Linked DNA regions of Homo sapiens. The protein of the gene in region 1 interacts with the protein of each later gene in a biochemical or structural test. Each region holds a gene or a part of one and is shown in the gene's direction. Other genes may lie near its edges. The genes, in order: ARAF, GNA12, IRF7 and NELFCD.

Evidence for each region.
Region 2: the proteins of ARAF (region 1) and GNA12 form a complex in vitro, tested with the Homo sapiens proteins (2 studies listed by BioGRID).
Region 3: the proteins of ARAF (region 1) and IRF7 form a complex in vitro, tested with the Homo sapiens proteins (one study listed by BioGRID).
Region 4: the proteins of ARAF (region 1) and NELFCD form a complex in vitro, tested with the Homo sapiens proteins (one study listed by BioGRID).

What each region holds. Positions count from the first base shown.
Region 1 is NC_000023.11:47,564,144-47,571,264, forward strand, and holds part of ARAF (serine/threonine-protein kinase A-Raf), read left to right. Parts: intron 1-653; coding exon 654-756; intron 757-841; coding exon 842-996; intron 997-1,099; coding exon of another isoform or gene 1,100-1,108; coding exon 1,109-1,207; coding exon of another isoform or gene 1,208-1,211; exon of another isoform or gene 1,212-1,832; intron 1,833-2,495; coding exon 2,496-2,637; intron 2,638-2,740; coding exon 2,741-2,768; intron 2,769-2,842; coding exon 2,843-2,988; intron 2,989-3,086; coding exon 3,087-3,289; intron 3,290-4,574; coding exon 4,575-4,751; intron 4,752-4,843; coding exon 4,844-4,890; intron 4,891-5,395; coding exon 5,396-5,514; intron 5,515-5,749; coding exon 5,750-5,881; intron 5,882-6,734; coding exon 6,735-6,869; intron 6,870-7,121. UniProt on the Homo sapiens protein: Involved in the transduction of mitogenic signals from the cell membrane to the nucleus. May also regulate the TOR signaling cascade. Phosphorylates PFKFB2.
Region 2 is NC_000007.14:2,729,268-2,736,388, reverse strand, and holds part of GNA12 (guanine nucleotide-binding protein subunit alpha-12), read left to right. Parts: intron 1-2,706; exon of another isoform or gene 2,707-2,887; coding exon 2,888-2,938; exon of another isoform or gene 2,939-4,638; coding exon 4,639-5,208; 3' UTR 5,209-5,345; coding exon of another isoform or gene 5,346-5,368; 3' UTR 5,369-7,121. UniProt on the Homo sapiens protein: Guanine nucleotide-binding proteins (G proteins) are involved as modulators or transducers in various transmembrane signaling systems. Activates effector molecule RhoA by binding and activating RhoGEFs (ARHGEF12/LARG).
Region 3 is NC_000011.10:612,951-621,027, reverse strand, and holds the start of IRF7 (interferon regulatory factor 7), read left to right. Parts: upstream 1-5,077; 5' UTR 5,078-5,115; intron 5,116-5,380; 5' UTR 5,381-5,663; coding exon 5,664-5,683; exon of another isoform or gene 5,684-5,709; coding exon of another isoform or gene 5,710-5,768; coding exon 5,769-5,931; intron 5,932-6,020; coding exon 6,021-6,231; intron 6,232-6,493; coding exon 6,494-6,552; intron 6,553-6,628; coding exon 6,629-6,854; intron 6,855-6,990; coding exon 6,991-7,077; intron 7,078-7,162; coding exon 7,163-7,243; intron 7,244-7,432; coding exon 7,433-7,822; intron 7,823-7,910; coding exon 7,911-8,029; intron 8,030-8,077. Other genes in the region: CDHR5 (cadherin-related family member 5 isoform 1 precursor), read left to right, coding at 642-732, 864-961, 1,147-1,347, 1,441-1,554, 1,638-1,722, 1,848-2,429, 2,917-3,074, 3,258-3,677.
Region 4 is NC_000020.11:58,976,931-58,984,354, forward strand, and holds the start of NELFCD (negative elongation factor C/D), read left to right. Parts: upstream 1-4,379; coding exon 4,380-4,439; intron 4,440-7,424. UniProt on the Homo sapiens protein: Essential component of the NELF complex, a complex that negatively regulates the elongation of transcription by RNA polymerase II.

The sequences.
Region 1 (7,121 bases):
CTACTGTAGTTCAAGTAATCTATGAGTTCATCCATCTTTTGTTTTGTTACTTCATTGGTTTATTGGCCTGTAAGGTCAGCAACTCATTCTCCCCTGGCCCCCAAGTCCTCACCCTGGTCCATCACTTCTGCCCAGATTTCATCTATTTTGTCCTTTCACGATGTCATGACTTCATCAGGTCTCTTCTTCCTCATTTTCCCCATTCTCTGTCTGCTGAGTTGGGTCTTGCTGACTTTATTTATTCCTCTCTCGTGGGTTTCCTTAATTTATGATGCAGTTCACACACTGCACTTTATTTGTTGTTTCAGTGCCTCCTCAGCCCCCTTTTCAGGGGCTGGCTTAGCGCTTCTAAGATGTAGTTGTTTAGTTTCATTTGCTTCTCCCCTTCCGTTTCAGAGCATGGACTCTTCACACCGTCATGCCTCTCATTACCCTTGTGGCCCAGGGCCAGTCACTTTATCCCTCTGAGCCTGTTTCCCCATCTGTAAAGTTGGGGCAAGGATAGTGACTAATTTCTAGAGTTGCTGTGATGAGAATTAAACATGCCAGACATGACCCTGTGGGTAGCAGGCTTGGAGGGACTTGTGGGGGTTCCCTGCCTCCCCATGGCCCCTACCCAACCTCCCACTCATTCCTTTCCATGCCCCCTGCAGACGAAAGACGGTCACTGCCTGGGACACAGCCATTGCTCCCCTGGATGGCGAGGAGCTCATTGTCGAGGTCCTTGAAGATGTCCCGCTGACCATGCACAATTTTGTGAGTGCAGGGTGGACGGTGGGGGTGGACCATGGTTGGGGGTGTCCTTGACCAGGTCTCAAACTTCCCTGCTCTGTGGCATCAGGTACGGAAGACCTTCTTCAGCCTGGCGTTCTGTGACTTCTGCCTTAAGTTTCTGTTCCATGGCTTCCGTTGCCAAACCTGTGGCTACAAGTTCCACCAGCATTGTTCCTCCAAGGTCCCCACAGTCTGTGTTGACATGAGTACCAACCGCCAACAGTGAGCCCAGCCTGGGGTGGGTGGGGGGATGGGGAGCACAGAGGCCCAGCCACGAGGCCCTTACAGACAGCTGACCCGTGTCCCCTTGCTTTATACCCTTCATGCCCTCAAGGTTCTACCACAGTGTCCAGGATTTGTCCGGAGGCTCCAGACAGCATGAGGCTCCCTCGAACCGCCCCCTGAATGAGTTGCTAACCCCCCAGGGTCCCAGGTAGGGATGCCTTAGCTGAAGAGCTGCTGGGGGAGAAAAAGATCTTGGGGCTCTTGTAGACCACGAGCCATACTTTATTCATTTGTTTACTTGACAAACATTTATTGAGCACCTACAAGTGTGAGTAAGGGCATGAAACTGGGACCTTGGGCAAGTCACCTCATTTCTCTGGGCCTCAGTTTTCTCATCTGTAAAGAGGGGATGATGATACTTTCTACCATATAAAGGTTCTGGTGAGGCTTAAATGAGTTAAGACATGTTCAGTGCCTAGAACAGGATCTGGTACAGTGTAAATAATCAATTTTTTTGTTATTAATTATAAATATATTTATAAGCATCTAACTACTTTGCTAATTCTAGTATAATCATACTCAAGCCTTTCCATTTTGAAATACGTATTATTTTATCATAAATTACTTCCCTTTTATTGCTTTTTTATGTTAAATATTATATAAAACTATAGCTATATTAAAATATATTATTGCTCTAATATATATTTTATGATGTGCATATTTTATGGTATATTTATGTTATTGTATCATGTTGTATTACATAATTTTATATAATGTAGAACATCATACATGTTTATATGATACATAAAATAAAGTTAGGGTATTATTTTAAATTATGAGTGTATGTGCATTAATTACCTTTGAGTTTCATTTCAGGATAGTGAAGGGAACATTAACATATTTTTGTAACTTTACAATATGTTTAGCATATATCATATGTATAACATGTATGTATAACAATATGGTAATATGTATATTTTAAAACATTGCCATTTTTATATAGATGATACATATTATATAACATTTGAAAAGTACATGTAATTATAATATATAATTATAAAATATGATACATTACCCTTTCCCCACTATCTGTGTGGCCTGCTATCCTGCCTTTAGGCGTTTACTCCATTGTCATCTCCTCCTCAGAGAAACCTTTCCTGACACTTTCTAGGAACACTTTGTGTCTCCTTATTTTGCTTTACTATTTTTCTTTATTGCACCTATCACCATCAGGCATATTATATATTTGTTTTTTATTTCAGCCCCACCAGGGCAAGAACTGTTATTTTGTTTTACAGTTTTATCTCCACCACCTAGAATGGTATCTGGCACACAGCAGGCACTCAATAAATGTTTCTTGAAGCAATGAATAATAGTACTGCCAGTGGACATTCGCTCTGTGTGAGCCAAATGCATGTTTATGGCTGGGGGTGGGGTGGGGGGCTTTCTCGGTTCTCTGATTCCTGGCAGTGATTTCACAGCCTTTCCCCTGGCAGCCCCCGCACCCAGCACTGTGACCCGGAGCACTTCCCCTTCCCTGCCCCAGCCAATGCCCCCCTACAGCGCATCCGCTCCACGTCCACTCCCAACGTCCATATGGTCAGCACCACGGCCCCCATGGACTCCAACCTCATCCAGGTTGGTGCTGTGGGGGACAATGCCGGGGACCACAGGGCAGAGGGTAGAGCCATCCCTGTTGGCCTCCATGCCCTCTTTTTGACTCCTGTCCCTCTTCTTCTAGCTCACTGGCCAGAGTTTCAGCACTGATGGTGAGTCCCCTGTGCCTGCACCCTGACCCCCGCTGCCCCACTTACCTCCACTCACATCCTCTCTGCAACTGCAGCTGCCGGTAGTAGAGGAGGTAGTGATGGAACCCCCCGGGGGAGCCCCAGCCCAGCCAGCGTGTCCTCGGGGAGGAAGTCCCCACATTCCAAGTCACCAGCAGAGCAGCGCGAGCGGAAGTCCTTGGCCGATGACAAGAAGAAAGTGGTATGCTCGAGGGGGATCCTTTTGGGGCCACCAAGGCTGAGTGACGTGGGATGAGGGATGTGGGCAGGCCTCTTAGATGCCACCCATCTGGCCCACAGAAGAACCTGGGGTACCGGGACTCAGGCTATTACTGGGAGGTACCACCCAGTGAGGTGCAGCTGCTGAAGAGGATCGGGACGGGCTCGTTTGGCACCGTGTTTCGAGGGCGGTGGCATGGCGATGTGGCCGTGAAGGTGCTCAAGGTGTCCCAGCCCACAGCTGAGCAGGCCCAGGCTTTCAAGAATGAGATGCAGGTGCTCAGGTGAGGTGGCATGTGTGCGTGGATGGGGGTGGCAGGCCCGGCCTTGGCATCTCTCTGGGAAAAGGCCATGCTTGGAGTGCTTCCTGGACATCACCTGTGTTTGTGTTGTTAAACCATCATCAGAAGTTGTTTCTCTCTGAAGGGTGTCCCTTTCCCCTCTGGGAAATGAGTATGTTTAGAGGACCTGTGATCATGCAGTTGTTTGTGTTTGGGTTATTAATGAATGGTTCTGCCTCCAAAATGTGGGTCTTCTCATTTGCCTGCTGCGAACTGGGTCTGTGTGTGGGCCACCATTCTTGTTACTGCATTGCCAGGAAGGCTTCCATCTTTCCTTCCCCTCTGCTTGGGCTACAATGGTAATGTTCTGTTTATAGTGTTGGTTCTTGTTATTCATTAATTCTAATACCTTGATTTAAACAATATTATCATCATCACCATAATCTAATCATTGCTTAATTATTATAATTGCTGTAATATGTAATCAATACAGTATTCATCTAGTCACGCTAAGAAAGCCAGGTGTCTCCTTTTTGCTGCTATAGTTACTATGTAGCATAGTACTGTATACCTATATACTACAGGTAGTACTGGATAGCGTCTACCAACCCTGGGGATGTTGGCATTGGCTTTTCCTCTGTGTCAGATGGGCACAATTATGTTACAGAGAATAAGGTAGCTAATGCAATGATCAGTTTTACAGTTGAGGAACATGAGGCCCAGAGAGGTTAAATGTCTTTCCCAAGGTTGTACCTTGAGTACCTGGTGAGGCCTAGATTTGAACATGAGTCCAGACTCCAAGCTCTTTACCTCTAAGCTTCTCATGCTGCTGAACAGGCTCTAATCATCATATATCACCAATGTTTTAATCCTGCATCTATCCATATTATATTGATACATCAGTGAGGAAGGTTGGCATTCTGCTTTCTCATCTGTGAGATGGTCACAGACCCAGGTAATGGTCAGAGTCAGAGGGGTGGGGGATGTTAATGATTAGAAATGCTGCTGTAGGCAGGGAGGGGGAGGGGCAGCAATTCCTCCCTCCTGCTTTTGTTGGGAGACTCGGATGGGGAAGCTCCACATATGAGCCCACAGCACAGAATCATAGCCCAGTAAACACATCTCACAAATTCATGGAATCTGGCAATGCTTTGGTCCTGAGTGCCCCAAAAGACAGGGTGAAAATAAATGACCGAGGAAGGTAAAGAACAGTGCCACTCCTGATGCTCGGTAAGTGACAGTTGCTATTTTTCCTCCCCACCTCTGACACTGCCCTCCCTGCCTGCAGGAAGACGCGACATGTCAACATCTTGCTGTTTATGGGCTTCATGACCCGGCCGGGATTTGCCATCATCACACAGTGGTGTGAGGGCTCCAGCCTCTACCATCACCTGCATGTGGCCGACACACGCTTCGACATGGTCCAGCTCATCGACGTGGCCCGGCAGACTGCCCAGGGCATGGAGTGAGCCTCCCAGCCTGGGGAGGGGTGGGGGGAAAGGGTGGGGGAAATGAGGTAACCCCCAGCCAATCCGCCACCTGCCTCCACCCCCACAGCTACCTCCATGCCAAGAACATCATCCACCGAGATCTCAAGTCTAACAGTATCTATCTGTCCCTGGGCTGGGGTTGAGTGGGGGTGTCAAGGGCTTAGAAGGATGCCTCTTGTGGGGGTTCTGGGAATTACAAGGGAGGGGCATGTGTCCCAGAGCTCCTTGCCAGGTGGCAGAGCTGTGGCCAGCCAGGGGGCTTTAATGGCAGTCTCTTAGAAGTCAGAGGTGTGGCTGGTTCAGGTACTATTCTTGGGGACTCTGGTTAGAGTCTGATGTCTGACAGTTGTGGAGGGCATTATGGTCAACATCAGAGGCATAGTGGGTTCGGATGCCCTCCGAGGGGCTTCCTGTTCAGGAGTCACAGCGGGGCTGAGTGTGGGGGGCATTAGCAGGCGTTCCCTGCCCACGTCAAGGTTGTGGATAGTTTGCGTGATATTAAGGGGCTCCTGGTCAGGATCAGAGGGATGAGTGGTATAGGGGCACCAATGGGAACCTCCCAGGCAGGGTGAGAGGCATGGCTATTAGGAGTCCCTGTAGTGGTCCTTGACCCTGGCGGACATCTTCCTACATGAGGGGCTCACGGTGAAGATCGGTGACTTTGGCTTGGCCACAGTGAAGACTCGATGGAGCGGGGCCCAGCCCTTGGAGCAGCCCTCAGGATCTGTGCTGTGGATGGTGAGTTGGGCCAGGCTGGATGGGGGGCACATGGGGACGTGGGCTCCGGGATTGGGGTGTGTGGGGCCAAGTGGGGACGGGGATGCCTGTGCCAGATGTGGGTGTCTGGACTCCTCATGTCCCACCTCGTGTGGGTGGCTCTGAGTTGTACCCTGTGTGGCCAGTGGGATCTGGGACTGTGGACCAGCCATTTGCTGACCTCCGTGGTCCCCCTGCCTGGTCTGGCCTGTTGTAGGCAGCTGAGGTGATCCGTATGCAGGACCCGAACCCCTACAGCTTCCAGTCAGACGTCTATGCCTACGGGGTTGTGCTCTACGAGCTTATGACTGGCTCACTGCCTTACAGCCACATTGGCTGCCGTGACCAGGTGAGCCCCACACCTTACCCACAGTTCCCTGGGCTGAGGGATCCCCTCAGGCATCCATACCCCACATCCCCTCCTTTGCACTGATAAATGCCACACTTTCCCCAGAAACCTAAAATTTTCTAGGATAAGGACTCCCAGAATCCCTTGGGCTCCAGACACTTACAATAAATTCTCTGGGTCTCCCCTACCCCAACTTCCCTCTTCTCACATCCACAGCCCTCTGGGACAAAAATCTTTGAAGTCCAAAATGCCCCGAATCTCTATACCTAGAATCCCCTGAGGCCCCCAAATACCCCAAAGCCCTCTGTATCCCTAGACGCCTATAGTCGTCTGCTCTGGGTACTCAAAATCCCCCAGATCCTCAAAGCCCAGATCTCATTTCTCCCAGCATCCCATTTTTCCCCAGAAACAGAACCCCTTTGTGCTTCTGGAATAGTCATGGACACCCACAGTCACCTAGGCCTTGGGTATCTAGCAGGCCCCAGGGCCGGGATACCTAGAACCCTCTAGGCCCCAGACCCCCACAGAAGTACAAGCTCCCCCAGACCCAGAACTCCATGTTTTCCCGAGACTCAGTACTTTCCAGGTCCCTAAGCCTCCTAGAAACCCGTGGGCCTATAATCCTCTGAGCCCCAGATACCTACAATCCTTGACAACCCCAAATTTAAATCCCTCTGTTCTGAAAGCAGAGAATCCTCCCAAGTCCTCAAGGACAGAGAATCCTCTGGGCCTTGATACTGACAGTACCCCAGCTCGCTAAAAATGAACCTTCCAAGTCCCTCAATACAAAATTCCTTGGGCCTCCCAGCCCCTGACCCCAGATCACCCCTTTCCTGCCCCCGTCTGCCCCCAGATTATCTTTATGGTGGGCCGTGGCTATCTGTCCCCGGACCTCAGCAAAATCTCCAGCAACTGCCCCAAGGCCATGCGGCGCCTGCTGTCTGACTGCCTCAAGTTCCAGCGGGAGGAGCGGCCCCTCTTCCCCCAGGTGGGCTGGGTAGGGGGCTGGACACCTTGGGTGGGTGACTCTGGGATAGAGGAAGACTGAGATGGAGGCAGATGTGAATATGAAAGCTCAGAGGTATAGTGTGTGTGTGTGTGTGTGTGTGTGTGTGTGTTTCACCATGAGGCTGGGACTGTTGGGGGTGTGTGTGTATGTGTGTTTCGCCATGAGGCTGGGACTGTTGGGTGTGTGTGTGTGTGTGTGTGTGTGTGTGTGTGTGTTTCGCCATGAGGCTGG
Region 2 (7,121 bases), on another chromosome or scaffold:
TCATTTCATTTAATCCGCAAGTCCAAGTTTGTGTTAATCTTGAGTGGTGTAGGTTTTTCACACCAAGGAGAGTCCCGAGAGCCCACTTTGGATCCACTCGTGTTTCTAGATCGTGTGACCGCAGCAGCCGTTGAGAGGACTCTGGGCTCGTCTTGGCAGGCACAGTGCCTCTTTATAAACCCACCAAGCGGTTAATTTCATGTGGACATCTCAGTTTCTGCCACATGCATTTTCTCTAAAGAAATGACTGAATTCTCTTAGTGTTGAAAATGCATGGGATTGTAAACCTGGCCCTTTTAATGAGCTGCTGCTGTAAGACTTGAGGAGTCCGTCGCAAACGATCGTCCCGTGGGCTGCGTGCCCAATCAGCAGGTGCATTGTCCAGTCTCTGTTGGTGAACCGCAGTGCACCAAACCTCAGGGACAGCAAGAGTGCGGATGTGAGTGACAGCGTTCTGGATCACACAGGGTTGCTCTGTGTCCCCTTCTTCCCTCCCCTCCAGCCCCCATTAGAGAGCTTGTGGCACAGTCCCTGGCACCTTACAGTTCAGTGGCAGCTTTCCCACGGACCCCCTGGGCTGTTTCTCGAGATGAGGCCGCCCTGACATGAAACTAGATTTGACTCCTCTCCTCCGCCACTCATGCAAGATGACCGAGAGTCACAGATAAGTTTTCCTGCATTCCAAGTAGTGATACAAATGCTGTGATGAGTTAAATGAGCCATCCTCATTCAGTCATCGTGGAGAAAGCAGCAGTGAGTGTTTGCTGTGTTGTGAAGTGCAGCTGGGGGACTGATTGCAGACTCGAGGGGTGTTTAGACTCACACCGAGGGAAACGTCCCTCCTGTTTTCTGCTTCCCATCGAGCTTGTCCTGATTGTGCCCTCTGTGGTGCTTTTCCCCTTGCGTCCGTACTATCTGGGCGGAGCACGTGTGTCCAGGGCTTTGTGTCCTGTGGTGATAAGAGCACTGGCTGGGGCATCTGTGCCACTGTGACTCTCCATGCCTGACCCAGCTAGAACCCTGCAGGAGAACTGCCTCTGCTTCCTTCGTGCCTGGTGCCACCACCTGCCTAGAAACGGGCAAGGGTGGCTTGGGCTGTGAGCTGCTGCTACTCTCAGCTCCCTGGGGGAGCCCGTGGCCACAGGAGAGGGAGGGACAGTATGCTGATGCTTCTTGGGCTTGCGTGGCACCTCCCGAGGCCCAGGGGAGGGCAGGAGAGCAGGAGGAGGCAGGAGAGAGAGGCGCTGAGGAAGGAACTTGTCGTAAATCAGGGAGTGAGTGCACCCAACGGCTTCTCCCAGCTGCTTCCTGTCAGGGTGTGGAAGGAGGCATGATGTGCAGAGGACCGGGGGGACTTGGCACAGCCACGGGAAGGCGGCTGCCCCACCGGCCTCACGCTGGCTTCCCACATCACGGGGGCTTGGCGAGGAAGGGAGAGAGCAGGCACGAGAGGTCAGTCGTGCCGGGCCCTTGGGGTACGTTCACCCTGGCACTCCCGATGCCTTCCCTACTGCAGAGCTGGGCCTCTGCCTGGGGCTCTAGAGAGCCGGTGGTCACGAGGTGCACGTGCTCGCCCCGTCCTGCCACAGAGGAGGAGGATGTGTGCTCGCTCAACACAGGCAGTGCTGGGATGGGGAGACGTGTGTTTCTGTCCCCTCAAACAAAACACTCACTTTGAAAACATCCAGAGGCCTTCGTTCTAAAGTAGGAAGGTGGGCTCCTCCCTGAAGGAGCTTCCTCTCTGCTTTCTCCCCTCAGTCTGTCTGGGACAGAGGAGGAAGAGATAGACTGAGCAGGTGCTGGCCGCCTTTCTCCATCCCTTACAACGCCACGAGCTTCAGCGCCATCACGTAGTCCATTCTGATGGCCTTCTCTCCTTAAAATTCTCCTGCGTCAGCTCGCCACATGTGTATGACCTTGCCCCTGTACATTTCCATGAGAACACAGAAAGTGACTGCTCTTCCCACAAGCCCTGATGTCAGGGCAGCCTGGAAGCCTTGACCCCGCCTGCTGGTGTCTGTCTTTAGAGCAGGGTTCAAAGTGGAATCTTATAGAAAGTGGTATAATTGGTTTTTAATACGCTACCTTTGAAGGGACTCATTGCGTGCCTGTTCATATGCGGGCTGCTCTGTGGTCGGTGGTTGCGCTCTCCCGGCTCCTCCCGTGCCCCGTGTGTGCCTCGCATTTGGCGGCTCAGCGCTTCCTGAAACGGGGTCCTGGGTGATTCCGCAGGGCCCTTCGCACTATGGAACACGTCTCAGATTGTATCGATGATTGGTCCAGGCAGGAGAAGACTGGCCATCATTCCACCACAACAATCCAAATGGAAGATTCCCCTGTGTTTGCTACTATAAATCAGGTCATAAAAATGTGGGAAGGAATAATGGACTCTTTCTAGAAACTGGAAGATGTTTTGCTAGATGCTCCTTTTCGTCAGGATGTTTTGTCTTTAAGGACAATGTCTTGGGTCCCTTAGGCCATCTTCGACAGAAGCAAGACTGTACCCAGGAGCCAAAATCTAAAATCCTATTCTAGCCTGTCCTTTGCTGGCCGCATGGCCAGGAGTGGGCCAGCCTTCATGTCTGGAAAGAGAGTCCCCCATCAGAGGGGCCTGCATCGCACCACACACCAAAACCCAGCAGCGAAAATTGAAAAACAGCCAGAATTTGAACCTTGGGGTTGGAGCTAAAGAACCTGCATTAAACATTTTCTTTAATGGTAGTTTTTTTATTTTAGAAAACACACGGACACTCTCTGCCTTTTTCCTTTGCTTTCCCATTCACACGGAGGCGAAATGCCACTGCTCTTACCCTGTTCAGTTCTTGTATTTGCCACATCAGGATTCCTCAGTCCAGACTGAGCTGTGAATATTCTTCCTTCCTGACAGGGGGAGTCGGTGAAGTACTTCCTGGACAACTTGGACCGGATCGGCCAGCTGGTGAGTAAGCACGCCCGCCCGAAGAAGCTGGGCTCCAGGGTTAGAAAACGTGTCCAGAGACCAAAGCAGTCCACGTTGTGAGGACTTTGGCTGGACTGACAGGCCGAGCTTGTTCTGTCACATTACCACGAATAGTACTGTAATGGCACGCTCTCACTTGGATCTGGGCCCCGTCTCAGTGGGGAGGGGAGGAAACTGCCTTTGCCCAGATCACCATAAAGGAGACAGACAGAGGAGTTCATGAGTGAAAGGAGGACTTCCTTTATCTCATGGAAAATTCAAACATACTCAAAAACAAATAGTCTAATGAAACCCCAGGCATGGCAGTTATCACTGATTACCAGTCTTGTTTCAGCAGCCCTCCCCCGGCCTCCGGGAGCAAATGCAGAGAATATTTTAGAGTGTACCTCAAAAAGACAAGACGAAAAATGACAACCGCAGTACCGTATGGCTCCTGAAAAATTGGCAGTAATTCCGTAATGTCAACCTAGTCAGTTTAGAGATTTTCCCTGTTGTCTCATTAATGTTTTCATGTTGATTTTGCTTTGTTTTAGCAGAGTTTGAATCAACAACCTAATAAGGTCATGCATTGCCATTGGTCAGGATCACTTAAGTGTTAATCTGTATGTCTCTCCTTTTTTTCTTTCAACTTGTTTATTGGAGTAACTGGATTATTTATCCTGTAGGGTTTCTTACCATGTGGACTTTGCTCTTCCACCCCTGCAGTGTTATTGAAGATGTTTCTCTGTCCCCTGCACACCCCGTGGGTGGTAGTCAGACCTCTAGATCGAGGCATGATCATGTCCGTGTTTGGTGTTTTGGCAAGAAGCTGCCTGAGTGGTGTGTGCACTCATCACGGGAGGTGTTTTGTTGGTTTTTTGTTCTGTTTTGTTTTTCGATTTTTTGAGACAGGGTCTCACTCTGTCACCCAGGCTGGAGTACAGTGGCACGATCGTAACTCATTGTAGCCTCAACCTCCTAGGTTCAAATGATCCTCCTGTCTCGGCCTCCCAAGTAGCTGGGACTATAGCATGAGGCACCACGCCCAGCTAATGTTTTTACTTCTTGTAAATATGGGGTTTTACTATGTTGCCCAGGCTGTTCTTGAACTTCTGGGCTCAAGGTATTCCTCCCACTTCCCAAAGCACCAGGATTATAGGTGTGAGCCACCGTGCCTGGCCTGGAGGATTATTAATAGTGCAAAGTCAAAGTGAGTGAAGAGTATGCTTGCCTGTGTGTCGCTAAAGACTTAAAGAATTGTCTAAGAATAACATTAAATGTATTGCAGATTGAATTTACATCACATTCAAAACCTAAATTAATTCACAGTAAGGTTTTGGAAGCTATAAGCTTTAGGAGTTAGAAAAATAAAAAGGTATCTCTGGTATGGAAACAAAAAAGATGGTAAATTTCCTCTGGAGAAGAAAATGGATGTGGTTTTGCGCTGGGCCTGCCCACGAGTGTTCTGAGCATTCGTCCTCAGACTGGTGAGCCTCCGTTCGTTTTGAAATGAAGTATTTGATTCTTTCTGTTTCACGGCCAGTTGATAATGTTATAAATGAAATTTGCTTTTGGTTTCTGGTTCAACCTGTTGCAAAAGTCAGTCTCTTTCCTTCTTATCTTTTTGCCATCTTTTTGTTTCTATTTTCTCTGTTCTTTCTTCCTCCCCCTAAATTTCTGCCTCATCCTGTATTTTACAGAATTACTTTCCTAGTAAGCAAGATATCCTGCTGGCTAGGAAAGCCACCAAGGGAATTGTGGAGCATGACTTCGTTATTAAGAAGATCCCCTTTAAGATGGTGGATGTGGGCGGCCAGCGGTCCCAGCGCCAGAAGTGGTTCCAGTGCTTCGACGGGATCACGTCCATCCTGTTCATGGTCTCCTCCAGCGAGTACGACCAGGTCCTCATGGAGGACAGGCGCACCAACCGGCTGGTGGAGTCCATGAACATCTTCGAGACCATCGTCAACAACAAGCTCTTCTTCAACGTCTCCATCATTCTCTTCCTCAACAAGATGGACCTCCTGGTGGAGAAGGTGAAGACCGTGAGCATCAAGAAGCACTTCCCGGACTTCAGGGGCGACCCGCACAGGCTGGAGGACGTCCAGCGCTACCTGGTCCAGTGCTTCGACAGGAAGAGACGGAACCGCAGCAAGCCACTCTTCCACCACTTCACCACCGCCATCGACACCGAGAACGTCCGCTTCGTGTTCCATGCTGTGAAAGACACCATCCTGCAGGAGAACCTGAAGGACATCATGCTGCAGTGAGCGAGGAAGCCCCGGGGTTTGTCGTCGTTGAGCAGCCCCCACGGCTGTCGGTCAGACTCTTGGGTGTGTGTTGTCTGTGTGGTCCTTGAGTGGGTTTCTCGGATCCGTGCCCTGGAATACCTGGCTCAGGAATGCTGTCAGACCAGCCAGCCAGCGAGCTCTAGGCAAAAGGACATGGAAACTGTCACGTTAGCTACTGAATCCTGGGGGCGAGTGAAACTACTGAAAATCCGAGTGATGATGTTGTGAATACGGAACACCTAATCACACAGCTTGCTTTGCTTTTACAGAAACGTTCCTCTTTTTCTGACGCAGTTTAATTGAGGACCGTGTTGTGTGTGTATGTGTGTACACACGCTCTGTCTTTAATGACAGAAACACAAAAACCAGCTGGCCTTGCAGACGGCTTTTCTAACTCACAAGTCTTCCCTGAGACAGACTAACCTGAAAGCTTTGCCTAACAGTAGCTTGTAGAGATCCAGTGCACGCCGATGCTGCTAAACTCAGTGCCTGAGCCCGGCCCTGCAGCCCCAGCCGCAGTGTCTGAAGGCCACCTCCCAAAGGGAGCACGTTGCCTTTTCAAACTCCCGTGCCGATTTCCTAAGAGCCCCTAGTCCAAGCCTCTCAGATGAAGCTGAGGAGCCGTGCCTAGGATCCCTTCCCAGCTCTGAGGACGGGCTGCAGAGCTCTGCAGGTGTGGATTCACCTTACGCCCCTACAGCAGGCTCAGCCCTTCCCACCCTGCCCCATGCCCAGCAGCACAACACGGAGTGAGACAGGATGCCCACGGTGACTGCCGCTCCGTCCGTGCACACACAGCGGTGCTCTTCTCCCCTTAGCCACCCACTGCCCAACCCAACGGCAAAGACACAGAAACCAGGTCCCCTTGCAGACGGCTCTCCCATCTTCCTGCAAGTCATCTGCTCACACACAGTTGGCAGCACATAGCGTTTCCTTCTTTCAGAAACATTCCTCTTCTGGGGCTTCAGAAAGCTGGCAAGGCCACTAGCAGAGCTTTTGTTAATGCCCCAGCTGCTTGGCGAGCTAACAGCTGACCTTTCGGGAAGCCCACAGACGCTGGAGGAATCTTGAGTTTCTCCAAACTGCCGCTCCACCAGTGCCTTTGGACAGCCGTGCCTGTTCGCCGCTCTCCCTAAGTCTGATTCTCATCGAGGCCCCTCGCTTCTATGACTGTGCTTGCAGAAGAGTAAACACTCTCGGATGCCGCTGTCCTGGGGGAGCCCGCGGGAGCCTGTGAATGTTGATACGAGCTGGCCAGTCCTGGGCCCAGCTCACTTGTCCAGCTACCTGCCAGGTGGCTTTCACTGTGTTTAAAATACATTGCATTCCAAGCTGGTCCCCTCTGTGTATCACTCTACTGAGAAATCCTGCCTAGTGTGTTTTGGGATGTGTCCTAGCATTTACAAGAAAATGAAAAGCGTCCTCTTAATTGGCACCCGAATGTTGCTGTGGCTCAGTCACATATCCCAGGGCCCTCGTCCCGAGGCCGTGCTGCCCCGAGCCCCGAGCCCCTCTGCAGCTCACCCTTGGCTTGTTTTCCGCAAACCCGGTAAACGCAAGCCCTTGGGGCAGATGCAGAAGCAGAAGAGGGAGGGGAAACCTGCCTCTGGGTCACCCTGTTAGCACAGCGTTCTCATCGGGAGACAGCATGGAACTCTCTCTCGCAGTGCTCGAGGCTGTGTGTCAGTGTTTGCTGGGCTTGTGGCTCCTTTTTTGGCTGGATAAAGAAGTCGCTGTTTTTGTACTGCTTCTGTGGCTCTTCACAGACCTCACGGATGTGACCGGAGATGAGTGCCGATGACCACGTTTTAAAGGAGAAAGAGAGCTCCTGGTGGGGCCCTCGGGGTGGTCTCAGGTCCCATTTGCAGTCTGCAACAGTGACGCGCAGCCCG
Region 3 (8,077 bases), on another chromosome or scaffold:
ACACAGGGACGGCCAGGATCAGGAGAGGAAGGGCGGGGTCGGGGTCAGGGGGTGGGGCCGATTTCGGTCGTGATTTTGAAACAAATGCAGACTCTCCTTGTAAACCAACCCTTCCCATCTTGAGCGGTGAGGGAGCAAACCCTGAACACACAGGGAGGAGCGTGGGCCCCAGAGCCAGGCGGTCTCAGGGGCCTGGGGAGGTGGGCTGGGGCCCTGGAGCTCTTAAGGGATGCTGACATCTCTGCCCTGCTCACAGTCACCACTGGGCCCACACAGGCTGTCTGCAAACCTTCCTGGCACCAAGGCACCTGGGGCCACCAAACAGTACATGGGAGGCAGAAATGCAGACCCCGGGAGCCCCCACTTCCTAAATGTTTGCTTACCCGTCAAGACAAGCCTTGTGCAAATGGGACTCAGTATCTTTGGGCCACTGGACTCATTCATTAGTAAGGGACCCACAGGGGTGTTACTGATTGTGATGCTGGGACAAGGGACTGTCCTAGGCAGGCAGGGACGCCCGGCCACCAGCGGGACTGGGCCCCTCCTCAGCCAACCCTGCCCTTGATGGGGAGTCAGAGGGGCCAGGCTGGGGCCATCCACCCCAGCCCCACGACGTGCCCTCCCTTCCGCCATCCCTGAAGCCATCTCCCCTCGTCCTGCGTCCCGGACCCATCTACGCTGAGGACGGAGACCGCGGCATCAACCAGCCCATCATCTACAGCATCTTTAGGGGTGAGTGGGGCCCAGCCCTCAACAATGCCCTGTACCCCCTCTGTCCCTGTCTCCATCCCCACCTTGGGCAGAGCTGGCTGGGTCCCTGGGCCTCAGGGGGCCGGGGCTGAGCACTTCCATCATCCTCCCAGGAAACGTGAATGGTACATTCATCATCCACCCAGACTCGGGCAACCTCACCGTGGCCAGGAGTGTCCCCAGCCCCATGACCTTCCTTCTGCTGGTGAAGGTGAGGTGGGCACCTGCATGGGGGGCAGGGCAGAGGGGGAAGGGTGGAAGGTAGGGCGGGGGGTCAGGGCTGGGGGGCCGGGGCAGGGCCCCCGCCAAGTCTGCACCTGCCTTTCCTGAGCCCCAGCCTTCAGCGCCAGCTCCACCTTCAACCCCACTAGTCACTGCTGCCTCCCCCGCCTCCAGGGCCAACAGGCCGACCTTGCCCGCTACTCAGTGACCCAGGTCACCGTGGAGGCTGTGGCTGCGGCCGGGAGCCCGCCCCGCTTCCCCCAGAGACTGTATCGTGGCACCGTGGCGCGTGGCGCTGGAGCGGGCGTTGTGGTCAAGGATGCAGCTGCCCCTTCTCAGCCTCTGAGGATCCAGGCTCAGGACCCGGAGTTCTCGGTAGAGAGTGCATCCAAGGCCTCCCCTCTGTGGGTGGGTCAGGGCTGTACGTGGGAGGCAGCCTGGCCGGGGACTCAATGAGACCCTGTCCAGGACCTCAACTCGGCCATCACATATCGAATTACCAACCACTCACACTTCCGGATGGAGGGAGAGGTTGTGCTGACCACCACCACACTGGCACAGGCGGGAGCCTTCTACGCAGAGGTGCGGGGCAGGGCAGGCGGGCATCTCCAAGGGTGTGGGGCTTAAAGATGTGTCTAGGAGGGACAAGCCCCTTCCTGCCCCAGGTTGAGGCCCACAACACGGTGACCTCTGGCACCGCAACCACAGTCATTGAGATACAAGTTTCCGAACAGGAGCCCCCCTCCACAGGTAAGCCCCCCTCCACAGGTGAGCCCCCAGGGTTCTCCAAATAAGCCCCTTCGGTGGCTCCTTTCCCGCGGTAGGTGTGCAAGGGGCGGGCAGAGGCAAGCCCAAGCACTGTTCCCGGCCCCCAGATGTCCCCCCATCCCCAGAGGCTGGAGGAACAACTGGGCCCTGGACCAGCACCACTTCCGAGGTCCCCAGACCCCCTGAGCCCTCCCAGGGACCCTCCACGACCAGCTCTGGGGGAGGCACAGGCCCTCATCCACCCTCTGGCACAACTCTGAGGCCACCAACCTCGTCCACACCCGGGGGGCCCCCGGGTGCAGAAAACAGCACCTCCCACCAACCAGCCACTCCCGGTGGGGACACAGCACAGACCCCAAAGCCAGGAACCTCTCAGCCGATGCCCCCCGGTGTGGGAACCAGCACCTCCCACCAACCAGCCACACCCAGTGGGGGCACAGCACAGACCCCAGAGCCAGGAACCTCTCAGCCGATGCCCCCCAGTATGGGAACCAGCACCTCCCACCAACCAGCCACACCCGGTGGGGGCACAGCACAGACCCCAGAGGCAGGAACCTCTCAGCCGATGCCCCCCGGTATGGGAACCAGCACCTCCCACCAACCAACCACACCCGGTGGGGGCACAGCACAGACCCCAGAGCCAGGAACCTCTCAGCCGATGCCCCTCAGCAAGAGCACCCCATCTTCAGGTAGCACCCACTCTGTTGCCTTCCCTCCCTGACTCCGGTCATTGGCTGGTATGGGAAACGCTGTAGGAAGGGTCCACCCCAGGCTGACCTGGCCTGACCATGAAATCCCAAAGAGGAGTCTGTTTGGGACTGACAGACACAGACAGGCCCAAGGCCCCCAGTGAGGTAACCTGTGATGTGTGTAGGACAGAGGCCAGATGTGGGGTCCAGCGAATCCCACGATTCCCACGGCTGCCGCTCACCCTGCAAGTCCCTGCACCTCTTGTGAGCTCCTGTGAGCAGCTTGGCCTCCCGGGGGGGAGGGGGTGGGCAGGGTCTCGATGGGACACACAGGCCCCTTGAGCCAGGGTCAGCAGAGCCTGAGATTTGGGAGACAGCCCAGGCCTGGGTGGAACCCAAGTGTCCCAAGCCTGGCACAGGTTGGCATGGGAAATGCCTGGGGCACTCAACAGTGCGGGGATGATGACGTTTTCCACTGCGATGCCAGGTGGCGGCCCCTCGGAGGACAAGCGCTTCTCGGTGGTGGATATGGCGGCCCTGGGCGGGGTGCTGGGTGCGCTGCTGCTGCTGGCTCTCCTTGGCCTCGCCGTCCTTGTCCACAAGCACTATGGCCCCCGGCTCAAGTGCTGCTGTGGCAAAGCTCCGGTGAGGCCCAGGATGGAGAACAGGGCAGGCGACCAGGCAGGAAGTGGGGGACGGGGGACAGGAGAGGGGAGGGCAGAGGGACAGATGTGGAGACGGAGGGGTGTCCAGCGTGGAATGAGGGTGTGCAGGGCCAAGGCTGCAGAGACCCAGGGACCCCGCTGACGCCTCGACTCCCGCCTGCAGGAGCCCCAGCCCCAAGGCTTTGACAACCAGGCGTTCCTCCCTGACCACAAGGCCAACTGGGCGCCCGTCCCCAGCCCCACGCACGACCCCAAGCCCGCGGAGGCACCGATGCCCGCAGAGCCCGCACCCCCCGGCCCTGCCTCCCCAGGCGGTGCCCCTGAGCCCCCCGCAGCGGCCCGAGCTGGCGGAAGCCCCACGGCGGTGAGGTCCATCCTGACCAAGGAGCGGCGGCCGGAGGGCGGGTACAAGGCTGTCTGGTTTGGCGAGGACATCGGGACGGAGGCAGACGTGGTCGTTCTCAACGCGCCCACCCTGGACGTGGATGGCGCCAGTGACTCCGGCAGCGGCGATGAGGGCGAGGGCGCGGGGAGGGGTGGGGGTCCCTACGATGCGCCCGGTGGTGATGACTCCTACATCTAAGTGGCCCCTCCACCCTCTCCCCCAGCCGCACGGGCACTGGAGGTCTCGCTCCCCCAGCCTCCGACCCGAGGCAGAATAAAGCAAGGCTCCCGAAACCCAGGCCATGGCGTGGGGCAGGCGCGCGGGTCCATGGGGGTCCCATTCACTCAGTCCCCTGTCGTCATTAGCGCTTGAGCCCAGGTGTGCAGATGAGGCGGTGGGTCTGGCCACGCTGTCCCCACCCCAAGGCTGCAGCACTTCCCGTAAACCACCTGCAGTGCCCGCCGCCTTCCCGAGGCTCTGTGCCAGCTAGTCTGGGAAGTTCCTCTCCCGCTCTAACCACAGCCCGAGGGGGGCTCCCCTCCCCCGACCTGCACCGGAGATCTCAGGCACCCGGCTCATCTCAGACCTCCCGCTCCCGACCCTACACAGAGATTGCCTGGGGAGGCTGAGGAGCCGATGCAAACCCCCAAGGCGACGCACTTGGGAGCCGGTGGTCTCAAACACCTGCCGGGGGTCCTAGTCCCCTTCTGAAATCTACATGCTTGGGTTGGAGCGCAGCAGTAAACACCCTGCCCAGTGACCTGGACTGAGGCGCGCTGGGGGTGGGTGCGCCGTGTGGCCTGAGCAGGAGCCAGACCAGGAGGCCTAGGGGTGAGAGACACATTCCCCTCGCTGCTCCCAAAGCCAGAGCCCAGGCTGGGCGCCCATGCCCAGAACCATCAAGGGATCCCTTGCGGCTTGTCAGCACTTTCCCTAATGGAAATACACCATTAATTCCTTTCCAAATGTTTTAATTGTGAGAGTATCTGATATTCTTGACTGAACAATGTAAAAAACCCAAAGGGGGCTGCGCACGGCGGCTCTCGCCTAAATCCCAGCACTTTGGGAGGCCGAGGTGGGCAGATCACCTGAGGTCGGGAGTTCGACACCAGCCTGACCAACATAGAGAAACCCCGTCTCTACTAAAAATACAAAATTAGCCGGGCGTGGTGGTTCATGCCTGTAATCCCAGCTACTCGGGAGGCTTAGGTAGGAGAATCACTTGAACCCGGGAGGCGGAGGTTGTGGTGGGCCAAGATTGTGCCACCGCACTCCAGCCTGGGTAACAAAAGCGAAACTCCATCTCAAAAAAAGAAACGCAAACGGTGCAGCTGCCCCTTTTTCGAGGCACGTCCACCTCCCATTACCCACTTCCTTTTTTTTTTGAGACTGAGTCTTGCTCTGTCCCCTGGGCTGTAGTGGAGTGGCTCCATCTCGGCTCACTGCAGCCACTCCCAACGCCCTCCACTCCTCCCTACTCCGCGCTGGCCGGGGCGGGGTTCCGCTGGTCGCATCCAATAATAAGAACAGGCGGCGCGCGCCCTTCCCGGAAACTCCCGCCTGGCCACCATAAAAGCGCCGGCCCTCCGCTTCCCCGCGAGACGAAACTTCCCGTCCCGGCGGCTCTGGCACCCAGGTACTGGGGACCCCAGACCCACGCGGTGCAGGCCGGGAGCGAGAGCCTCCGTGGGGGCTCCGTGACCCCGGAGGGGTAGAGCCAAGAGCTGGGGGAGCCTGAGAGATGAGGGTCGGGCGGGGAGGGAGGCGGAGGCGGAGGCGGGGTTCCGCGGAGCTGAGAACCGGACGGGGTGGGATCGAGGAGGGTGCGAAGCGCCACTGTTTAGGTTTCGCTTTCCCGGGAGCCTGACCCGCCCCTGACGTCGCCTTTCCCGTCTCCGCAGGGTCCGGCCTGCGCCTTCCCGCCAGGCCTGGACACTGGTTCAACACCTGTGACTTCATGTGTGCGCGCCGGCCACACCTGCAGTCACACCTGTAGCCCCCTCTGCCAAGAGATCCATACCGAGGCAGCGTCGGTGGCTACAAGCCCTCAGTCCACACCTGTGGACACCTGTGACACCTGGCCACACGACCTGTGGCCGCGGCCTGGCGTCTGCTGCGACAGGAGCCCTTACCTCCCCTGTTATAACACCTGACCGCCACCTAACTGCCCCTGCAGAAGGAGCAATGGCCTTGGCTCCTGAGAGGTAAGAGCCCGGCCCACCCTCTCCAGATGCCAGTCCCCGAGCGCCCTGCAGCCGGCCCTGACTCTCCGCGGCCGGGCACCCGCAGGGCAGCCCCACGCGTGCTGTTCGGAGAGTGGCTCCTTGGAGAGATCAGCAGCGGCTGCTATGAGGGGCTGCAGTGGCTGGACGAGGCCCGCACCTGTTTCCGCGTGCCCTGGAAGCACTTCGCGCGCAAGGACCTGAGCGAGGCCGACGCGCGCATCTTCAAGGTGGGGACCCCAGCCCCGCCCCGCCCCGGGTGGGAGAGCCCGCCTAGGACCCCGCGGGCCCGGCACACGTGTTCTGTCCCCCTCTTCAGGCCTGGGCTGTGGCCCGCGGCAGGTGGCCGCCTAGCAGCAGGGGAGGTGGCCCGCCCCCCGAGGCTGAGACTGCGGAGCGCGCCGGCTGGAAAACCAACTTCCGCTGCGCACTGCGCAGCACGCGTCGCTTCGTGATGCTGCGGGATAACTCGGGGGACCCGGCCGACCCGCACAAGGTGTACGCGCTCAGCCGGGAGCTGTGCTGGCGAGGTGAGCGACGCCGGCTGCCAAGGGCGTTGGCATTCGTCCTGCTTGGGCAAAGGGGAACATTCTCTGGGTCAGATTTGTGGTTTTAGAAGCTGTTCTGGGAGAGGCTGCCAGCAGGCCCAGGACAGGTGGAGAGCCACATCCCCACCTCCTCAGGCCACAGCCTAAGGGTTCACAGCCAGGAAGCTGGTGGGGGCTACACCAGGCTCTCCTTGTATCTCTCACTCTGGTGTCGGGGCCTAACGCCTGCCCCATTCTCTCTCAGAAGGCCCAGGCACGGACCAGACTGAGGCAGAGGCCCCCGCAGCTGTCCCACCACCACAGGTACCCTTCTCTCTGCCTGCCTCTCCTCCTGCCAGGCCGCGGAGCTGCTTACGTTCACCCTGACTTTTCCCTGCAGGGTGGGCCCCCAGGGCCATTCCTGGCACACACACATGCTGGACTCCAAGCCCCAGGCCCCCTCCCTGCCCCAGCTGGTGACAAGGGGGACCTCCTGCTCCAGGCAGTGCAACAGAGCTGCCTGGCAGACCATCTGCTGACAGCGTCATGGGGGGCAGATCCAGTCCCAACCAAGGCTCCTGGAGAGGGACAAGAAGGGCTTCCCCTGACTGGGGCCTGTGCTGGAGGTGTGGGCGTGCCCGGGGAGGGGGGGAGCGCGGGAGGGGCCAGTGCACCTGGACGGACACTTTAGAAGGGGGCTGGGGATTGGGGAGCTGGAGAATTAGGAGGGGACCACCGTTCCCACTGTCCTCCCCTCCTCAGGCCCAGGGCTCCCTGCTGGGGAGCTGTACGGGTGGGCAGTAGAGACGACCCCCAGCCCCGGGCCCCAGCCCGCGGCACTAACGACAGGTGAGAGGGGTAGGGGTTGGGAGGCCTGGGGCACAGGGAGAGGCTAGGGATGAGGTGCCAGCACAGGATTCCCTTCCGGATGCAGGCGAGGCCGCGGCCCCAGAGTCCCCGCACCAGGCAGAGCCGTACCTGTCACCCTCCCCAAGCGCCTGCACCGCGGTGCAAGGTGAGTGCATCCCAGGAAGGGGCAGCCTGTCCCCGCCCACCCCCGTCACTCACGGCTTGTCCCCGCCCACCCATCACTCACATCCTGTCCCCGCCCACCCCCGTCACTCACATCCTGTCCCCGCCCACCCCCGTCACTCACAGCCTGTCCCCGCCCACCCCCGTCACTCACAGCTTGGTCTCCACACAGAGCCCAGCCCAGGGGCGCTGGACGTGACCATCATGTACAAGGGCCGCACGGTGCTGCAGAAGGTGGTGGGACACCCGAGCTGCACGTTCCTATACGGCCCCCCAGACCCAGCTGTCCGGGCCACAGACCCCCAGCAGGTAGCATTCCCCAGCCCTGCCGAGCTCCCGGACCAGAAGCAGCTGCGCTACACGGAGGAACTGCTGCGGCACGTGGCCCCTGGGTTGCACCTGGAGCTTCGGGGGCCACAGCTGTGGGCCCGGCGCATGGGCAAGTGCAAGGTGTACTGGGAGGTGGGCGGACCCCCAGGCTCCGCCAGCCCCTCCACCCCAGCCTGCCTGCTGCCTCGGAACTGTGACACCCCCATCTTCGACTTCAGAGTCTTCTTCCAAGGTCAGTGAGGCCCTTGCCTGGGGGGCTGTCTCCAGGGGTCCTTGGGAGCACCTGCCTGCCAGGTACTCAGCAGAGTCCCCTTCTTCAGAGCTGGTGGAATTCCGGGCACGGCAGCGCCGTGGCTCCCCACGCTATACCATCTACCTGGGCTTCGGGCAGGACCTGTCAGCTGGGAGGCCCAAGGAGAAGAGCCTGGTCCTGGTGAAGGTGAGACCAGAGCCTCAAGGAGGGGAGGCCATGTGCTCAGGCCCACTG
Region 4 (7,424 bases), on another chromosome or scaffold:
TGTCCTCCAGATTGAAGTCACAAGTCTCAGCTTAAACATAATTTCCCTGGAAAGGACTTCTTGACCTCTTTCTGAGGTCGCTGCATTTTTTAAAAAAAATTGTTAGAGATAGCTTCTCTTTTCTCCTTTTTTGCCATTAGCACCAGATGAATTGTGTCTCTGATTCAGCTATATCCCAGCACCTGACACCTAGTAGGCACTCAGTAAGTATTTCCTCAATGGATTAAGTGAAACCAACTTCTAATTTTCATAAAAATTCTCCACCAGAATTCTTCTTTTTCTTCTTTTTTTTTGGTGGGGGTCAGGGGACAGAGTCTTGCTCTGTCACCCAGGCTGGAGTACAGTGGTGTGATCTCACTTCACTGCAACCTCTGCCTCCCAAGTTCAAGCGATTCTCCTGCCTCAGCCTCCCAAGTAGCTGGGACTACAGGCACCCGCCACCACACCTGGCTAATTTTTGTATTTTTAGAAGAGACGGGGTTTCACCATGTTGGCCAGGCTGGTCTCAAACTCCTGACCTCAAGTGATCTGCCTGTGTTGGCCTCCCAAAGTGCTGGGATTATAGGTATGAGCCACCGCACCCGGCCCAGAATTCTTCTTAAACAGGAAAATGACTTTAGAACTTAAATGACTTTAGGAGTATTTAAGCAATGCAAGCTAATCTGGACAATCTAGACAAGGCTTTGGAAAAAACAACAGATCCACAATATCTCAGGAGGCAAGACCTATAGACCCAACTACTTTTTTTTTTTTTTTTTTTTTTGAGACAGAGTTTCGCTCTGTCACCCAGGCTGGAGTGCAGTGGCATGATCTCGGCTCACTGCAAGCTCCACCTCCCAGGTTCACACTATTCTCCTGCCTCAGCCTCCTGAGTAGCTGGGACTACAGGCGCCTGCCACCATGCCCGGCTAATTTTTTTGTATTTTTAGTAGAGACGGGGTTTCACCGTGTTAGCCAGGATGGTCTCGATCTCCTGACCTCGTGATCCACCCGCCTCGGCCTCCCAAAGTGCTGGGATTACGGGCCTGAGCCACTGCGCCCGGCTGACCCAATTACTTTTAAATCATTGTGACTTATAGGCTGAATGTAATGGTTTCATTACGGGTTGTTAATCCATTTAACAATAAATGGATTAACCAACCTGTTGGTTGAAGGAGAAGTGAGCTGAATAATCCCCAATTCCGTAGGCACAATTAGTTATACATACATTAATTGGTCCGCTTTCAATTCTGGCACTATTTTTTAAAAAATCTAAGAGGAGAGGTAGGAGGAGTTTAACAGCCATCTATTCTTTCCAACATTTTGAGAAAGCAAGTGAAAATGAACCCTGAAACAAGCCAACAGCAGGGGCACTCATTAACTTAATACACTTTAATCTTGTGAATAGAAGCTGGAGCTGGATCCTTTGAATCGGAGCTGCAGACTTCCACCTCCAACCACCTGCAGGACATCTCCGCATGGGTGTTCTGTTGGCACCTCTAACTCAGCACAACCCAATGAACTCATTATCATCCCATGGAGAAACCTGCCCTCCTCCTGGGTTCCCTGTCTCAGCCATGGGCCATCCCCAGGCACACAAGCTGGGGGTCACAGCAGCATCTTCCCTGCCCCTGTTCCTGGCCCCCATCTCCCACCCCCAAGGCTGTTGTATCCTCTGGACTTGACCCCAACTTCACAGCAGTTAGCCACAGCTCCTTCTCAGCAACCCCCTCCATTAATGCTCACGGAAGCTTCTTAATTTACATTCTCACCTTCTCACTTCCTTCTGTAAGGCCCCCTCAGCTAGGAGAAATGCCTTTGAAAATTCAGATATGTCCTTTCACCCGCTCAGAGCAAGAAAAAAAAAATCCAAACGTTTCATCTTCCTCATAATGATGCATACTTGCTGAGCACCTACCATGTGCAAGCTCTCTGCTCAGTGCTTGGCATACCTCATTACATTCAATCCTTAGAGATGGCCCTCAGTTAATACAGACCTAACTCCCTCCCAAGATCTGGCCCTCCCTGCCTTGCCCACCTCATCTAGATTTCTCCTTGGCCTGCCAGGTGCCGCTCTCAGTGGCCTTTCTGTTCCAAGTACGCATGCCTGGCCTTTGCCCTGGCAGTTCTGCTCTCTGGAAATGCTCTTGCCTGGGTCTTAGCTAGCTTGCCCCTTTCATGACATGACTCAGTTCAAATGTAAGCTGCTCAGCAGCCATCTCTGATCTCCCCAAGAAGATTCTATTATCACAGAATACTAGCACTGATCACCTTCTGTCTTTATCTTATTTGTTCCCCCCACCCCCTCCCCCCATTCAGCTCCTTCAGTAGAATGTAGGCTCTACCCGGACAAGGATCAGGTCCAACTTGTTCACCGAGCTCCAGGGAGCAGCGCAGTGCTGGGCACTTAGGGAACACTCAATAAACATTTGTTGAATAAATGAAGACATATTCCCTGATAAGTTCTCCAAAAGTAGTCACTATTATCAATCTTCTGGAGCTCTTTTCTCTAATACTCTTTCCTTACTGACATGGGCATTACCTTTCTTTTTTTTCTTTATAGACAGGGTCTCACTTTGTCACACAGGCTGAAATGCAATGGCACGACCATAGCAAACTGTAACCTCAAACTCCTGGGCTGAAGCAATCCTCCTGCCTCAGCCTCCCGAGCAGCTAGGACTACAGGCGTGCATCACCATACCTGGCTGGGGGCGGGGGAAGGGGGGGGGCGGTGTCTCGCTATGTTGCCCAGGTTGGTCTCAAACTCTTGCCTCAAGCAATCCTCCCACCTTGGCCTCCCAAAGTGCTGGGATTACAGGTGTGAGCCGCGGCGCTCAGCCACGGGCGTTACCTTTCAAAGCATCCAGATTTTATGGCGTTAATCTCCCTGTTTAAAATTTTCTGTGATTTGGACACAAAGATGGGAACAACAGACATGGGGTATTCCAAAAGGCAGAAGGTGTGGAGGGGGGTAAAGGCTGAAAAAGTTGCCGAAAGGATTAGAAGCATCACGCAATATACCAATGTAACAAACCTGCACACGCACCGAATCTAAAATTAAAACAAAACAAAAACACAACAACCAAACAAAAACCTTTCCGTGATCATCAGGAGGCTGTCATATTCTCACCCCCTACTTCACGCTGGGAATCGAGCTGCGGGCTTTACAACAGCGTCAGCTGCTCCCTTTGGCAACGACCAGAGAGGTCCTTTCTCCAGAGATTTTTGTCAGCTCTGGGCACTTTTGCTTTGTGGGCCTATCTTCCACTTTATAAAAAATTAAAAATGCTACTTTCCACTGCATTCAGTACTTTTTCTTCTCTTTTCTTTTTTCTTTTCTTTTCTTTCTTTCTTCTTTCTTTCTTTTTCTTTTTCTTTTTTTTTTTTTTTTTGACACAGTTTCACTCTGTTGCCTAGGCTGGAGTGCGGTGGTGTGATCTTGGCTCACTGCAACCTCCACCTCCTGGGTTCAAGCGGTTCTCGTGACTCAGCCTCTTGAGTAGCTGAGACTACAGGCGCCCGCCACCATGCCCAGCTAATTTTTGTGTTATTAGTAGAGAAGGGGTTTTACCATGTTGACCAGGCTGGTCTCGAACTCCTGACCTCAGGTGATCCGCCCGCCTCGGCCTCCCAAAGTGTTGGGATTACAGGCGTGAGCCACCGTGCCCTGCCCTTTTTATGTATGTATTTATTTATTTGAGATAGGGTCTCGCTCTGTCGCTCAGGCTGGAGTGCAATGGTGCGATCTTGGCTCACTGCAACCTCCGCCTCCCGGGTTCAAGCGATTCTCCTGCCTCAGTCACCCGAGTACCTGGGATTACAGGCGCATGCCACCACGCCCGGCTAATTTTTGTATTTTGAGCAGAGACGGGGTTTCACCATGTTGGCCAGACTGGCCTCGAACTCCTGACCTCAAGTGATCCGTCAGCCTCGGTCTCCCAAAGTGCTGGGATTACAGGCGTGAGCCCCCACGCCCGGTCGCGTTTAGTACTTTTTACCAAAACTAAAAGAAATTAAAACACTTTCGTGGGTCCTGGACACTTCCGGAAGGATTTGTTTCCAGCTGCCAGATGAGGAAACTGGGGCTCGCAGAGCCGGCGCCGCAGGGGAGGGGCTGTGCACGAATCCAGTGGGAAACCTCTCTCCGGAGCTAAGCCCCTGGTCCACCCGGGCATCGCTCCGGGATCGACTGGGGGCGTTCCTTCCGCCGGTCCCCTTTGTTCCCAGTGCCGAGCCCGCGGCCCTGCCCTTCCTCCAGGCCCCGCCCCTTCTTCCAGGCCCCGCCTCCCGCCCGGGCCGAGGCGCGCGGCCGCGCGTGCGCCCGCCCGCCCGTCCCCGCCTCGCGCATGCGCCGCGCTCGCTCGCGGGAGGGCATGGCGGGGGCCGTGCCGGGCGCCATCATGGACGAGGACTACTACGGGAGCGCGGCCGAGTGGGGCGACGAGGCTGACGGCGGCCAGGTGAGGCGGGGCACTGGGCGCACCCTAGAGAGAATCGTTCGTCTCCGCCGCCGGCGGGCCGGCCCCACTCCCGGAGAGGCCGCGCGGCGCGAGGCTGCGGGCGTGCGGGGGGTGTGCGCGCGCACGGCCCGCGCGGTCACCGTGTGGTTCAAGCACAGCCCGCCCCGCCCCCGCCCGCCCGGGGTCCCGCGGCGCGGCCGCCGGGGTCCCCGCCTCCTCGCCTGCAGGACCTTGGGGTGGGGGTGAGGCGCCGGAGGCTCTGGCGCGGGGCGGCCCGAGGCCCCCAGTACCCCCTCGCTCCGGCCAGGCCCGGCGCCGGCCCTGCGACCCCCGCGGCGGGCGGGACACCAACGCTAAGGTGGAGGGTTGGGTCCGGAGCTCACAGACTTTTAAACAAAAATAAAGTGGAAAAACTTCACAGCAGCATCATGAGGAAAAAGTAGAACTTAGGGCATTCCTACATGTGCTTTACTGTTTTATAAACTGTACTCTTCAGCACCTTGGGCTGATTTCATCTGTTTTTGGGCAAACTGATGGAAAGGATTTTCGGGCCTTGACCTTCCAGGGTTTGGGGTGGAAGCCCAGGAGGGATCACTGTTCCACCCTGAGGACAGGGACTGCAGAGCCAGGGCAGGTAGCTCTAGTCTGGACAGTGTGTCCCCACCTTACTCTAAAGACCCAACTGAGGCGCATGATTGAAATGTAGCTTCTCACGTCCCTCCCCTGGAGACGGCCCAACAGTTGGTCTGGACGGGAGCCTGGGAACTTGCATTTTTTTTTTTTTTTTTTTTTTTTTTTTTTTTTGTGGTGGAGTTTCGCTCTTGTTGCCCAGGCTGGAGTGTAATGGCGCCATCGCGGCTCACTGCAACGTCTGCCTCTCGGATTCAAGCGATTCTCCTGCCTCAGCCTCCCGAATAGCTGGGATTACAGGCACCCACCACCATGCCCAGCTAATTTTTAAAATTTTGAGTAGAGAGGGGGTTTCACCTTGTTGGCCAGGCTGGTCTCAAACTCTTGACCTCAGGTGATCCACCCACCTCTGCCTCCCAAAGTACTGGGATTACAGGCGTGAGCCACTGCTCGTGGCCCAGGAACTTGCATTTTTAACAACAATCAAGATTGGGGATGTCTGGTGCATTTTGAAGTGGTATTATAAGGGAATAAAGGATGAAGTGGGGCTTACGTTGATAAACATGGGTGGTGGTGTGATGGCGGCTTCGGAGCCATGGTCTAAAATGCCAAGGCGGGCGATGTGTTTCTGGAACTGAAAGAAGCCCTGTGATGTTAGCTGCCTGGTGGAAGCAGTGGCAGGAGGTCAGTAGGGAGCAGGTTCTGAAGATCCTTGGAGAGCTGCTGAATGGTATGGCTTGTTCAGGAGTTTGGGGCAGGGAGTGACACGAGTAGATTTGCATGTTGGATCATTTCACAGTGTTGGAGGCTTAGGGTGGAGTGGATAGAGTCAGACTTAGCTAACTGAGAGCTTGGGCCATGTGTGTCATGCGTTATCCCCTTCCACACACAGGATTTTGAGTTGGGTGTTACCCTACTTATCTGGTAAGTGTAGAAAATGAGACGAAAAGACTTACTGACCTGCCCAAGGTCATGAAACTAATAAAGGAAGGAGAGGGGACCCAAACCCACATCCTTTGCCTCCGTTGCCACTTCGTCAAATTGCTGACTACCAAAGTGGTCCAGATGAGAAGGTGTGAATTAGCTTAGTGGTAGGTTGGTGTTTGGGGCATCTAGTATATCACCTTGAGCCTTTTTTTCTTTTTTTTTTTTTTTGAGACAGAGTCTCGCTTAGCTGCTCAGGCTGGAGTGCAGTGGCTTGATCTCAGCTCGCTGCAACTGCCATCTCCTGGGTTCAAGCAATTCTCCCGTCTCAGCCTCCTGAGTAGCTGGGATTACAGGCATCCGCCATCATGTCCGGCTAATTTTTGTATTTTAGTAGAGACAGTGTTTCACCACGTTGGCCAGGCTAGTCTTGAACTCCTGACCTCAGGTGATCCGCCTGCCCCGGCCTCCCAAAATGCTAGGATTACAGGCGTGAGCCACCGCACCCGGCCTTTTTTTTTTTTTTTTTTCTTTGAGACGGAGTCTCACTCTGTCACCCAGGCTGGAGTGCAGTGGTGCCATCTTGGCTCACTGCAACCTCCACCTCCTGGGTTCAAGTGATTCTCCAAGTAGCTGGAATTACAGGCCGGTGCCACCACACCCGGCTAATTTTTGTATTTTTAGTAGAGATGTGGTTTCACCATGTTGGCCAGGCTGGTCTCGAACTCCTGGCCTCAAGTAATCTGCCCGCCTCCGCCTCTCAAAGTGCTGAGATTACAGGTGTGAGCTACCGTGCCCGGCCTCACCTTGAGGCTTTGAGTCATAAAGTGTTAGAACTGGGGCATATAAGGGCCATCTAATCAGTACCTTCACTTTATAGACCAAGCACGTGAGTTATTTGCCCAAGTTTGTGCAGTCAGACCTAGACCCCACTGATGGGAGATTGGGGAGTCTCATGTTTGGGGAATTTTAATCATGATCCTAATTTGGCCCACTGACACCAGTGGGCTCTCATGGATGAGGGGGGTGGACCAGACGTTCATTTCATGTTTATTCTGTGACTCTGCTTGGAAGAGGTACAGAAAGTTAGGAAAGGTGTTAGGAGGGTGGCAAGAACTGGATTTTAAAAGATAGTTGGTGACCCAAATTCTGTTCGCCTGATGCCATGTTACATAGTGGGAGGTAGGAAGATGTGTAAGGAGGCCACCGTGATGTTCAGTCTGGATGGTGGAAACTAAGAGCTGCAGACATGCAAATAGATGAGTCCTGCTACAGATTGCAAATGGGGAGTGGTGAGAGGTCAGAACGGACAGGGGAAGTGGGAAGGGCACGCTCTTGCTAGAGCTGGGGCGTTTTTTCCTGAAGGAGATGGGAATCTTTAAGCAGGAGAGAGACGTCAGTTTTGTGGCTTACAAAGATCACTGTGGCCAC